2 separate regions of the Homo sapiens genome follow, and region 2 is linked to region 1. A link means that fine-mapping ties the variant in region 1 to the plasma level of a protein whose gene starts in the linked region. Region 1 holds a variant in brackets. A gene starts in the other region. All regions are shown on their reverse strands.

What was found. PIP is the posterior inclusion probability: the model's chance that the variant is causal. The UK Biobank Pharma Proteomics Project read protein levels with antibody pairs (Olink). The fine-mapping took linkage between variants from a reference panel, not from the people measured, so its PIPs are less certain.
Region 2: VSNL1 starts here. The variant in region 1 is fine-mapped to the plasma level of the VSNL1 protein (UK Biobank, PIP above 0.99).

Annotation. Positions count from the first base shown.
Region 1 is chr3:195,576,398-195,581,761 of GRCh38, reverse strand. APOD (apolipoprotein D) reads left to right here. Exons shown (of 5, transcript NM_001647.4): 2 at 2,267-2,423. The coding sequence starts at 2,301. Among named protein-coding and RNA genes, the nearest start is that of APOD, 4.9 kb to the left of the region's middle. The variant T/C (reference allele first, on the strand shown) is at 2,344.
Region 2 is chr2:17,538,168-17,543,541 of GRCh38, reverse strand. It overlaps VSNL1 (visinin like 1), which reads right to left and starts at 2,846. Exons shown (of 4, transcript NM_003385.5): 1 at 2,624-2,846. RefSeq lists enhancers at 1-120, 4,422-4,541.

The DNA.
Region 1 (5,364 bases):
ATTTTGTCAGAGTAAGATGTAGAACTGACTTTTGTTGCAGTGTCATGTGGTGGTGAGACTCATCAGGTCACAGAGGTGGGGGGTTATTGAAAGGCCCTATGGCGGTGCACAGAAGAAGCAGATTCGGGGTGCTGCAGACAGGAGAGGGGGAGATGGAGCTCGAGTCCCAGCTCTCTGCCCCTTCCAGGCCCCAGCTTCCCCATCTGTACACCTTGGAAGTAGAGCTAGAAAGATGACCTCTAAGGTCCTATCCAGTGTGGGGACCTTGTGGAATGTGCATAGTGTGTGGCCAGTCTTTGAGGTTTGATCCTCTGGGCCAGGCTTTCAGCTTGGGCCTACTAAGTAGAATTCAAGATCTCTTTAAAATGGATGCAAATTTGTGTGGGTTTAGGCTGCATTTCTATAAATTCATCATCCCCCAAAAGGTTAAAAGACAGGTTTTGTTTATACAGTGGTGGAGCCGATGAGAAACGGAACCTCAGAGACCAGGGAAAGTGGCCCTGTGGCAGACTTGCTCAAAGGGGCCTCAGCAACCATCTCCCCCTGCAGCAACCCCAGCTGGCAAGCTGCCACTCCTTACATAACTGTTCTTTGGAAAACCAGGCAACAAAACCTCCAGGGGAAAAAAAGCTATTGATTATTAAAGGGTATTTAGAGGTTTAGAGACTCACAATAAAGCAGTTATAATTATTCCTGTAATGACACATCCTTCGAAATGCTCAGATCTGAGAACATTTTGCTTGCATTGCATCAGTCATCATCATTACAGGGAGAAATGCAGAGAGCTGGAAATAGCTCGTGTGCAAGCTACAGGCAAGGAGTCACAAGGAAAGGAGCAAATTGACAGCGAGTCAGTGAAGGAAACAGGGGAGCTTCCAATGCCCAGAACCTGCACACAGTCCTGCAGCCTCTGTCTCCCTGCCTTGCTGCCCCGCTTCAAAGCCAGCTTCTGCTGCCAAAGGACTCTTGGGGTTGAAATGCTTGTTGCACAGTTACACATCAGCTGACAGTCCTTCTCTGATTTAATGAACTTCATCTATGAAAAATACCCTCAACAGGCCGGGTGCGGTGGCTCAGGCCTGTAATCCCAGCACTTTGGGAGGCCAAGGCGGGTGGATCCCCTGAGGTCAGGAGTTTGAGACCAGCATGGCCAACATGGTGAAACCCTGTCTCTACTAAAAATACCAAAATTAGCCGGGAGTTGTGGTGGACACCTGTAATCCCAGCTACTCAGGAGTCTGAGGCAGGAGAATCACTTGAACCCGGGAGACAGAGGTTGCAGTGAGCCGAGATTGTGCCACTGCACTCCAGCCTGGGTGACAGAGTGAGACTCCATCTCAAAACAAAACAAAACAAAACAAAAACCCTCAACAGAATGTCAAAAAAAAAAAAAGAAGAAAGAAAGAAGAAAAGAAAAGAAAGAAGAAACCTGGGAAATACCATCATCTTTCTGCTTTTGATAATAACAATAACTAGCATTTATTGAGCATTTACTCTGTATCAGACACTCCTCTAAGTACTCTCTGTATATTATCTCATTTAATTCTCACAAAAATTCATGAGCTAGGAATGATAATTATTCCCATTTACTAGACAAAGAAGCTAAGGCATAAATTGGACACAGTTATACTTAGTATGGGGCAGAGTCACAATTTGAACCTGGCTGGGGTGACCCTGGAGCCCCCAGCAGGCCGCTCCCTGTTAAGGTTTCCAAGCGCACTCTTGGGCTGGTAGAACAGCCAGCAAGACGAGGGCAGGGGGAGGGATGGTGTCAGAGAGGCATCTCCCTGAAGAATCTCAGAGGACACTAAGTGTTGGGCAACATTTGGTTTGGTTTCGTGTCTTTCGTGGTTCACTTGGAGGCTTTAATCCCCCACTTTACATAGCCCTCTCCACGCTGTTTCTGTTCATTTGACAAGTATCTACTGAGCCGACACTTTGAGGTCCGTGGGTGATTCTGAGGAGAACTAGACACAGTGCCCATCCTGGGAGATGCATAATTAGGTGGGACAGGGGTGAAAATCAATCCAACAAACCAGAATACCAGGCAGAGAGCGCCCTCGTGGAGGTGCAGAGGCTCTGAGGAAGGCCTCACAGCAACAAGGACAGGCAGGTGTTCCCCTGCAGGATGAGGGTTCACATGGGCTGGGGAGAGAAGAGGAGGGACCGCCCACAGAGGGGACCATGGGCACAGCACTCTTACTTCATGATTGTGTGGCCTTAGAAGGCTCAGAATGACAACCCCAGCTGCTTTGCGTTCCCGCAGCTCCAGGTCCCTTCTCCAGCCACCCAGCCCCAAGATGGTGATGCTGCTGCTGCTGCTTTCCGCACTGGCTGGCCTCT[T/C]CGGTGCGGCAGAGGGACAAGCATTTCATCTTGGGAAGTGCCCCAATCCTCCGGTGCAGGAGAATTTTGACGTGAATAAGGTAAAAGGCGAACCTCCCGTTTGTTTTGCTGCCTCCGCTGTGAATAAGCGTTCTACAAGGTTCAATGTAATTATGCTGCTTTAATTTCCACTGCACACCTTGGGACAAGTATTTATCTTATTTGGGGTTTCCCCAAAGCAGACATCTGCTGAGATAAAGACTGCAGGCAGAGAGGTTTGGGATGATCCCGGGACGCACGAGAGCAGGTGGGAAGGTGAGTCGGAGACAGCACAGAAGCAATAAAGGGTGCGTTCCTGAGCTGTCGCCCTGGGCCGTCAGGGTCAGTCACACTGGGCACCCTCTGAGGACACGTGGAGCATGCCCCTCCGATTGTCCCACAGCTGCTGCCAGCAGGTCATGGGAGCATCCGTGGCTCTAGCTGAGCCCCCTGGCAGAGGAGAGACACAGGGTCTCAGGTGGGAGGCTGGCAGTGTCTGGGAATTGCCTACCGTGGCTGCGGTGAACTCAGAGGTGGGCTGAGGGGAACAGGACCAGGGAACCATAGTAGCTGCTACAGAGCTATTATCCTTGTTCTACAGATGCAGCATCGGAATCTCCCTCCCCAGCTCACGCAGCTGGTAAATGCAAGTAGGATTCAAAACCAGGCTTCTCAGCAGTGCAGGGCACCCAAAGGTCACTCAAACAGGGCTCAGGAAAGCCCAAAATTCTCCAGGGGGCTTTCTTGGTATCTGCACCAAAATGTCATCAATACAACGAGCTCCTCCATAGATGGTCTTTCTTCCTGGGGTTTAGCGGGAGGGGAAGGAAGAGGGCGGCAGAAAGAGGCAGCTATTGGAGGACAGGACTCACAGGCTCCCACTGTTGCTACTCAAGCCTGGAATCTCACCCTTAAGACTTCCTCTCCTTAGGAGAAGGTTTGGATCTCTTTTAAGAATGGCAACAGTAACATCGAAGTTGTTATCATACACTCGCACCTCAAGGTGAATGAGTGTTGGGACCTCTGAGGGGACGCTGGGTGGGAGAAGGAGCACCATCCATGGGATCAGGAGATACAGGTGTGGTAGGAAGAGGCCATAGAGTACACTAACGTCTACACTGACTTGCTCCACTTACAGGCTGATCCCTTTATTCAGGTAACTCTGATAGACCACAGAGAGGCTTTAAAGAAAACATCCAAGGAATCTGAGTTATACTTTCGCTTTTGGATACAAATCCCAAAGCACTTTGGAAATGATAACTGATCTGTATTTATAGAAGTCCTTTGAGAATTAAAGCAGGATTTAAAAAATAGCAGCTTTATTGAGATATAATTTGTATAGCACGTAATTCACTTGTTTAAAGTAGCTTTTCACTTTCCATTGTTGTTAGTATCATCACAGAGTTACGCAACCATCACCACCACCATCGATTTAGAACATTTCACTGTTCCGAAAAGGAACCTCATACCCATTCACGGAGTCTCCATCTCCCCTCCAACCCTTCCAGCCCCAGGCAACCACTAATCTACTTTCTGTCTCCGAATTTGCCTATTCTGCATATTTGATAAAAATGAAATCATACTATATGTGGTCTTTTGTGACTGGTTTACTGAACGTTTTCAAGGTTCATCCACGTTGTAGCATGTATCAATACTATATCCCCTTTTATTGCCAAATAATATTCTTGTAGGAAATCGTTATAGGAAATCAATTGACTGTATATGTGAGAGTTTATTTTTGCACTCTCAGTTCTATTGATCTATATGTCTATACTTATGCCAGTACCACACAGTGTTGATTACTATAGCTTTGTAGTAATCAAAGCCTTGAGGTAAGCTTTGAAATAAGAACACATGTGTCCTCCAACTTTGTTCTTCTGGTTATTCCGTGTCCCTTACATTTTTATATGAATTTTAGGATCAGCGTGTCAATTTCTGCAAATAATCCAATTGGAATTTGATACAGATTGCATTAAATCTGAAGATCAATTTGGGGAGTACTGCCATCTTAACAATATTAAGTCTTCTAACTTGTCAACATAGTGTATCTTTCCATTGAATTAGGTCATCTTTAATTTCTTTCAACAATACTTTGTAGTTTTCAGAGTATAAGTTTTATGTTTCTTTGGTTAAATTTATTCCCAAATATTTTATTCTTTTGATGTTATTGTAAATGGAATTTTCTTCTTTTTCTTTTCTTTTCTTTTTTTTTTTGAGACGGAGTCTCACTTTGTCACCCAGGGTGGAGTGCAGCATCACCATCTTGGCTCACTGCAACCTCCGCCTCCCGGGTTCAAGCAATTCTCCTGCCTCAGCCTCCCAAGTAGCTGGGACTACAGGTACACGCCACCACACCCAGCAAAGTTTTTTTGTATTTTAGTAAAGACGGGGTTTCACCATGTTGCCCAGGCTGGTCTCGAACTCCTGAGCTCAGGCAATCCATCCGCCTCGGCCTCCCATAGTGCTAGGATTACAGGTGTGAGCAAGCCACCGTGCCCGGCCTTTTAAATGGAATTTTCTTAATTTCATCTGCAAATTGTTCATTGCAAGTAGAGAAATATGTTTATATATGTATATATTTTTGTGTGTGTGTGACAGAGTCTTGCTCTGTCACCCAGGCTGGAGTGTAGTGGCACCATCTCAGCTCACTGCAACCTCTGCCTCCCAGGTTCAAGAGATTATCCTGCCTCAGCCTCCCGAGTAGCTGGTATTACAGTTGCGTGCCACCATGCCCGGCTAATTTTTAAATTTTTTATAGAGATGGGGCCTCGCCATGTTGGCTATGCTGGTCTTGAACTCCTGACCTCAAGTGATCCACCCGCCTCGGCCTCCCAAAGTCCTGGGATTACAGGCATGAGCCACTGCGTCTGGCTGAGAAATATATTTGATTTTTGAATATTAATCTTGTATCTTGTAACCTTGCTTAACTCATTAGATCCAATAGTTTTTGGTTTTGTCTCTGTTTTAGATTTCTTAGGATATTTTATATGTCATCTGCAAACA
Region 2 (5,374 bases), not on the chromosome of region 1:
CATCTCTAATTTGGGTTCTGCCTCCTAGGAGCCAGAGGTGAGCTGGCAAAGTCCACTCTGGAAACCCTGCAGCTTCCTCACTCCACGAAGTCCTAATCTCTGCAGCTGCAGTGGTTTTGGAGGAGGACAGATGGGGAGAAAAGTGGGAATGTAACTGCAGTGTCTTTGAAGGCTGGATTCCCTGAAGGATTTTGGGGAACACAGCAGGGAAAGATGGAAATGGGCCCTGGGCAGTTCTCAAACAGGAACTGCAGATTCTGATACGCTAGTGCTCCCGGCAAACGCCAAGGATTCCAAAGAAATTGTCTGAGATGCAGAGGAGGCCAGAAAAGCCAGACTAAACATCCAAAGAGGTGGGGATATTAGAGGTGAGGGGCAATAAAAAAGAGAGAGAAAGAGACCTTACAAGACAAAGAGAGGCAAGGAAGAGAAATGAGGTGGTATAAAAGGGACCCCTAGAGACAATTTCAAAAGATGTGCTGGAGAGCAGACAGTTATTTATTTGAAGTCTGCAGCAATGTCACTGAGACTGCTGAAAATGAAAGAGAGAAGGAAACATTTCCACTCAACATTACTTTTTAATTGTTTATTCCATAGACTAGAAGTTAATTGACTTTTCTCTACATCCATGGTTCTGGGCCTCAGTTTCCTCATCTACAAAGCAAGGGGTTTGGACTAGATACCTTACAGGGTCTCTGCCTAACTTGATCCTCTCTGTCAACCTATGAGCCAGGGACTCCAAGACCAAGCATTTATCAGTTTTGATACCTAATTCCCCCCTTTTTCCTCTACCACCCCTCTTTATCAATGCAGTGTCAACACCTGCACCATTCATCGAACTGATGCCAATGCTCAATGATGACAGGGAGTATGGCTCAATTATGACAAATGATTAGTCCTTCTGCCCTGGAGTAAGGAAAGAAGGAATAGACAAGGCAGTATGATTTATACTGTGGATTTCCAATGAGAGGTTCTTCTCGAATTTTCAATTACAAATTTCATCCATTTAAATAAATTATAAATTCCTTTGAGGGGTTCCAAATGGTTGGACTGATCAAAGGGCCAAAGAGCCCTATTTGATGGCCCCCACACCCGATTTGAGGGAAAATTTATTTCATTTCATCCCCAAAATTGGATTTGCTTATTTCGTGGAAATCCAGCACGCACTAGCCATGCTTTTTTCTCATCTTTCTGCCTCATGCCCATTCTGCCAACCTGCTTCAGTGCAGCATTTTCTGGGGTTATTAAATACCCAAGGCTTAATGAGAGTGCATTCAAAAGTAAGTTGTTCAATGATGTAGGATCACCCCCTACTCCCCCCCACCACACACACACAAACACACGTAGGCAGTTTAAATGATAGTGGGGGTAAAATGTGTTTTCACAAGAGTTTCATTTTAAATTTGTCTCAACCTGAAATTCCTTTAGAAATTAAAATAAATATTAATATGTAGAAATAAAACTCCCCAGCTTTTCTTGCCTTCAACTGGAAAGTGATACACAAATAGTATGTACTTAGTGTTCTCCACAACCACCAACAATTCTATTTTATTTTAGTTTCCAAAATACGGACAGGAGGGCAACTCTAGAAAAATGGATTCCCACTCTGGCATCTCACAGGGCACTGATCAGGCAATGCGGAGCACTCATCATTTCCACCATGCAGGGAGCATCAGCCTCTCCTCGCTCCTTCCACGTACACATTCTTGTACCCCTGAGGGTATTCATCATTCTGATTTCCACCCGGGGTTTGACCTTGCAAAGACCCTTCTTCCAGTTTCTGGGCAAGGAACAACCCATTTTAACTCAAAACACAAAACGACCTTTTATCCTTTAAAGAAATACTACCAAATGTAACACACCTTGATTTACATTTTTTAACCCCAGATTCCGGATGGCGAACACGGAATGCAAAGGCAGGTAACTAGTTTGGGTCTGACAGTCCCCATTCAGCGACCGAGCCTGTGACTCCGTTCAAAATCGACAGTGCAGTAGAGCATCTTTCCCTTTTCTGCCCATTCACCATTGTGACAAAAATCAAAGACGAAAAAAATTATCTACTCATTTCTGAATACTGAGAGAAATGTGCTCATTTTGCGCCTGACTCCGTGGATCTTAAACACTAACATCCCGCTCAGAGATCAACCATGATTTCCATACCAATCTCATCCACTCAGTTTTACTTAGCAAACACCTTTGCTGCCCTTCCACAGTGAGAAAAATGGTGCACCAATCCCACGGATGACAGGTTGCTACTCGACTGTACCCGCTCAATAGTTTTATCAGCAACCGGAAAACTTCACAATCGGTCAATTAGCTACTTAAATCTGTCTAAGACAAACTAAGAAAGCATCTCAGTTTCACCTGTCTTAAATCTAGTCTAAGACAATCCCCCAAACACGCCGCATATAAACACTCCCCCTTCCCCCACCCCCAATATTCCAAAAGATCCCCCATGGACTAAGAGCACATTCAGATCGCCAGCATTAAGCAAGGAAATTGTCCCCATGCATTTAGACGCATCTATGCAAAGCAAAGTATGTGACAATAGCCAAAGCATTTCTCTGACAGTTGGTTGCACTACACATGCAGAAATGCAACGAAGATTGTATTTTCCACTTACAGTTACAGCGCTGCGCACGGTCACTTAACGAAAATGATAAAACTCAACAGTTCTTTTTAAAAATATATATTTAATTCGGGTAAACGCTTAAGCCGTCTCTGTGTGTGGTTCTCTCTCGCTCTCTTTTTCTCTGGAGCTCTGGGCTGCTTAAATCCCTCTTGGATCGCGCCTTGCAAGCCCAGCCGCTGCCGCAACACGCTCGGGTAAATCTCTGCTGCAGATTGGGAATCCCATAGAAAACCTAGGGTCCCTGGAGCTGGATGCGCAGGCGCGCGAGCCTCCGCCTCTCCAGGCACCCCCTCCCCTTTCCTCTCTTCCCTCCCCCCAGCTCCGCAGCCCCAGCTAGGAGAACTCGGGAGCCTGTGACCAAAAGCCGCCTGGCGATGGCGCATGCTCAGTCGGAGGGGCTCGGAGTTTCCGCGGGTGGATTCCACGTCTCCAGATTTTAGCAAAAGCTCAAAAGGAAAGTATATAGGAAAAGGGAGTCCGGCTACCGGAGCAACCCGCACCTGGACGGGCGCGAGGGACTGCGGGTTACCCGGACTCGCCACGCCCAGTGGTTACCGAACCTGGGGGCTGAAGGCCGAGGCCAGAGATGGAACACGTGGAGCCGCTTTTCCCGCTGCTTTCTGTCCTAGCCGACCCCCGGCCCACCCTTTGTTAGGCTGTAAGGTGAAGGAGAAAACTGCAGAAATCTCCGAAAGAAGACTTCCCAGCAAGCTGTGAGCACGTCTACCTGGCTTACTGAAGGAACGGTTATGGTGGTCATTTTGTCATGGGCCATTTCATCAGAGGGTCTTCTGCTAGGAGTACTGGGAGCCGGGTCCTGCAGCACCCAGTGCCCCGGACAGTCTCGGTCCAGAACGGCGTTGAAAAAATGTGTGTTAAAGGGAGCTGGGATCCGAGGCTTCTTGCCCTGTGTACCCTGAGCCAAGCGCCTTCTGTATGCACTTAAGTGTTTTTAACATATGCTTTGCGTCTGGGGTGGGAGGGGGTGGGTGAAAGGGCGGGAATGAACCATTTTGCGAACCCACGTTTAAGGGCTCTGATTAGGCCATCTTATAAAGCCCCCTTTGTGTCCTTGAACAACTAACAGGTTTGCCAGCCCTCCCCCCGGCTCCCCATTGGCCTGCCAAAGCCTAGAAGGCTTGGCAAGGAGTAGTGCCCAATAAATGTTTGGTCGGTCGCTTCCCTACCAGAAAAGCAAGGAGAATTCCCAGATGTTCCCAACCAGACCAGTTTTCCTCAAGTGTGTATGTTGTACATGAACTCATTCAACAATTATTCATGGAAGCATTTGCAAAACTATTAGACATTCCTTTATGCTTTGGGAATAAGTGCGGTTAACAAAACCCCCTCCTGGGCTTTACATTCAGGTGGGAGTTTTATTTTCAAGGGAGGGAAGTTCTGGGGGCGAGATGAAGATCGAGGTTCTCCTTAAGCAGAGCGCTGTACAATTTGCACAGCGTCTTCACACACCTTATCATGTTCAGGAAAACTGTAGAGTTGACCTACCCTTCGGTGCTGGGGACACCAAGAGCGTCTCCCGTGGCAAATGAGCTCTAAATTGACAAATCTCCAGCTGCTCCTGGTTCCAAGTCGAGGAGTCCAGCTTTGAACAAACTTGAGACTACTTAAGTGGGCACCAGGAGAAACTCCGCCAGACAAGTCTGTGGCTGTCGACATGCTAAGTGAGGGCCTCAGGCAGTGATGCCTAAGCCTCATTCGCTGCCAACCTAGCCAGCCCAGAACCCAGGAACTGGCTTCCCGGGCAGGACGCCTCGGGAAGGTTGCGCAAAGGGGGAGCGCGCTCTCGGGACTCCCGGGACACCGCCCGCGGCTGTCCCCTCTCGGCAGGGCTCTTCCGCCAGTGCTGGTGACCGCGGAAACCCGGAGCGCGGAGTCGCGCGGACCACGGCGCGCGGCCCCGGCGGGCTGCGGCAGCCGAGCACGTTTAGAATCTGGCGGGCGCCAGCCCTTCGCTCTGGAGCCGCAGTGCGCACTGCGCTGCGGGGCTCCCGGGCGCGCCGGGCTGCTCCTGTTTCCTGGGACTGGCAGGGGGAGTCAGTCCTGAATAAGTCACTTTTTCTTTTTAGCTAGAAAAACGACTTTCAAAAGGCTTTCAAAATCTCGTCTTTGGTCGATTTCCCCTACTACAGCATTTTACGCTGAGTTCTAGTTTCTCTCTCGAGAACAGCCTCCGCACTGTAATCTGCATCAACCCAAAGGGTCATGATGCCATTTCTCCACTTCAACGAGATATACCTATTTATTGCACCCTGGAGGTCTCTTTCGTGGCGGTGTTCGATTTTAGATAACTTACTTGCAACTTGTGTTTAGGAAAAAATGTACACTGATACTTTAAACCATGCTCTGTTGTAGGGTACGATTGATATCGACGCGTGCGCTTTTGTAAAGTAGCTTTGTCTACGTGGGCGGGCAGATTTTTTAAAGTTCCATTTGCACTGCAGCGCTGTTTGCGTCCTAAATGCGATATTGTAATGTTTAATATCCAGCTATTATGTAGCTTTATCTTTTTCAGCTTCTAATATTTTGTTGCTGTTTAATTTTTTTGGCATGCCTTTTAGTCGAGTTGTATATACGAAGTCACAGTAAGAAAGCCAATTCTAAGACTCCTAAGGAATATTATCGTTTAAATTACAGAAGGCAAATCCCCTCTTTAGGATGGGAGAATGTACTTGAAGGGAGGAATGTGGCAGGGTCCCTCAGAAGTGAGGGAGCCCGCTGTTC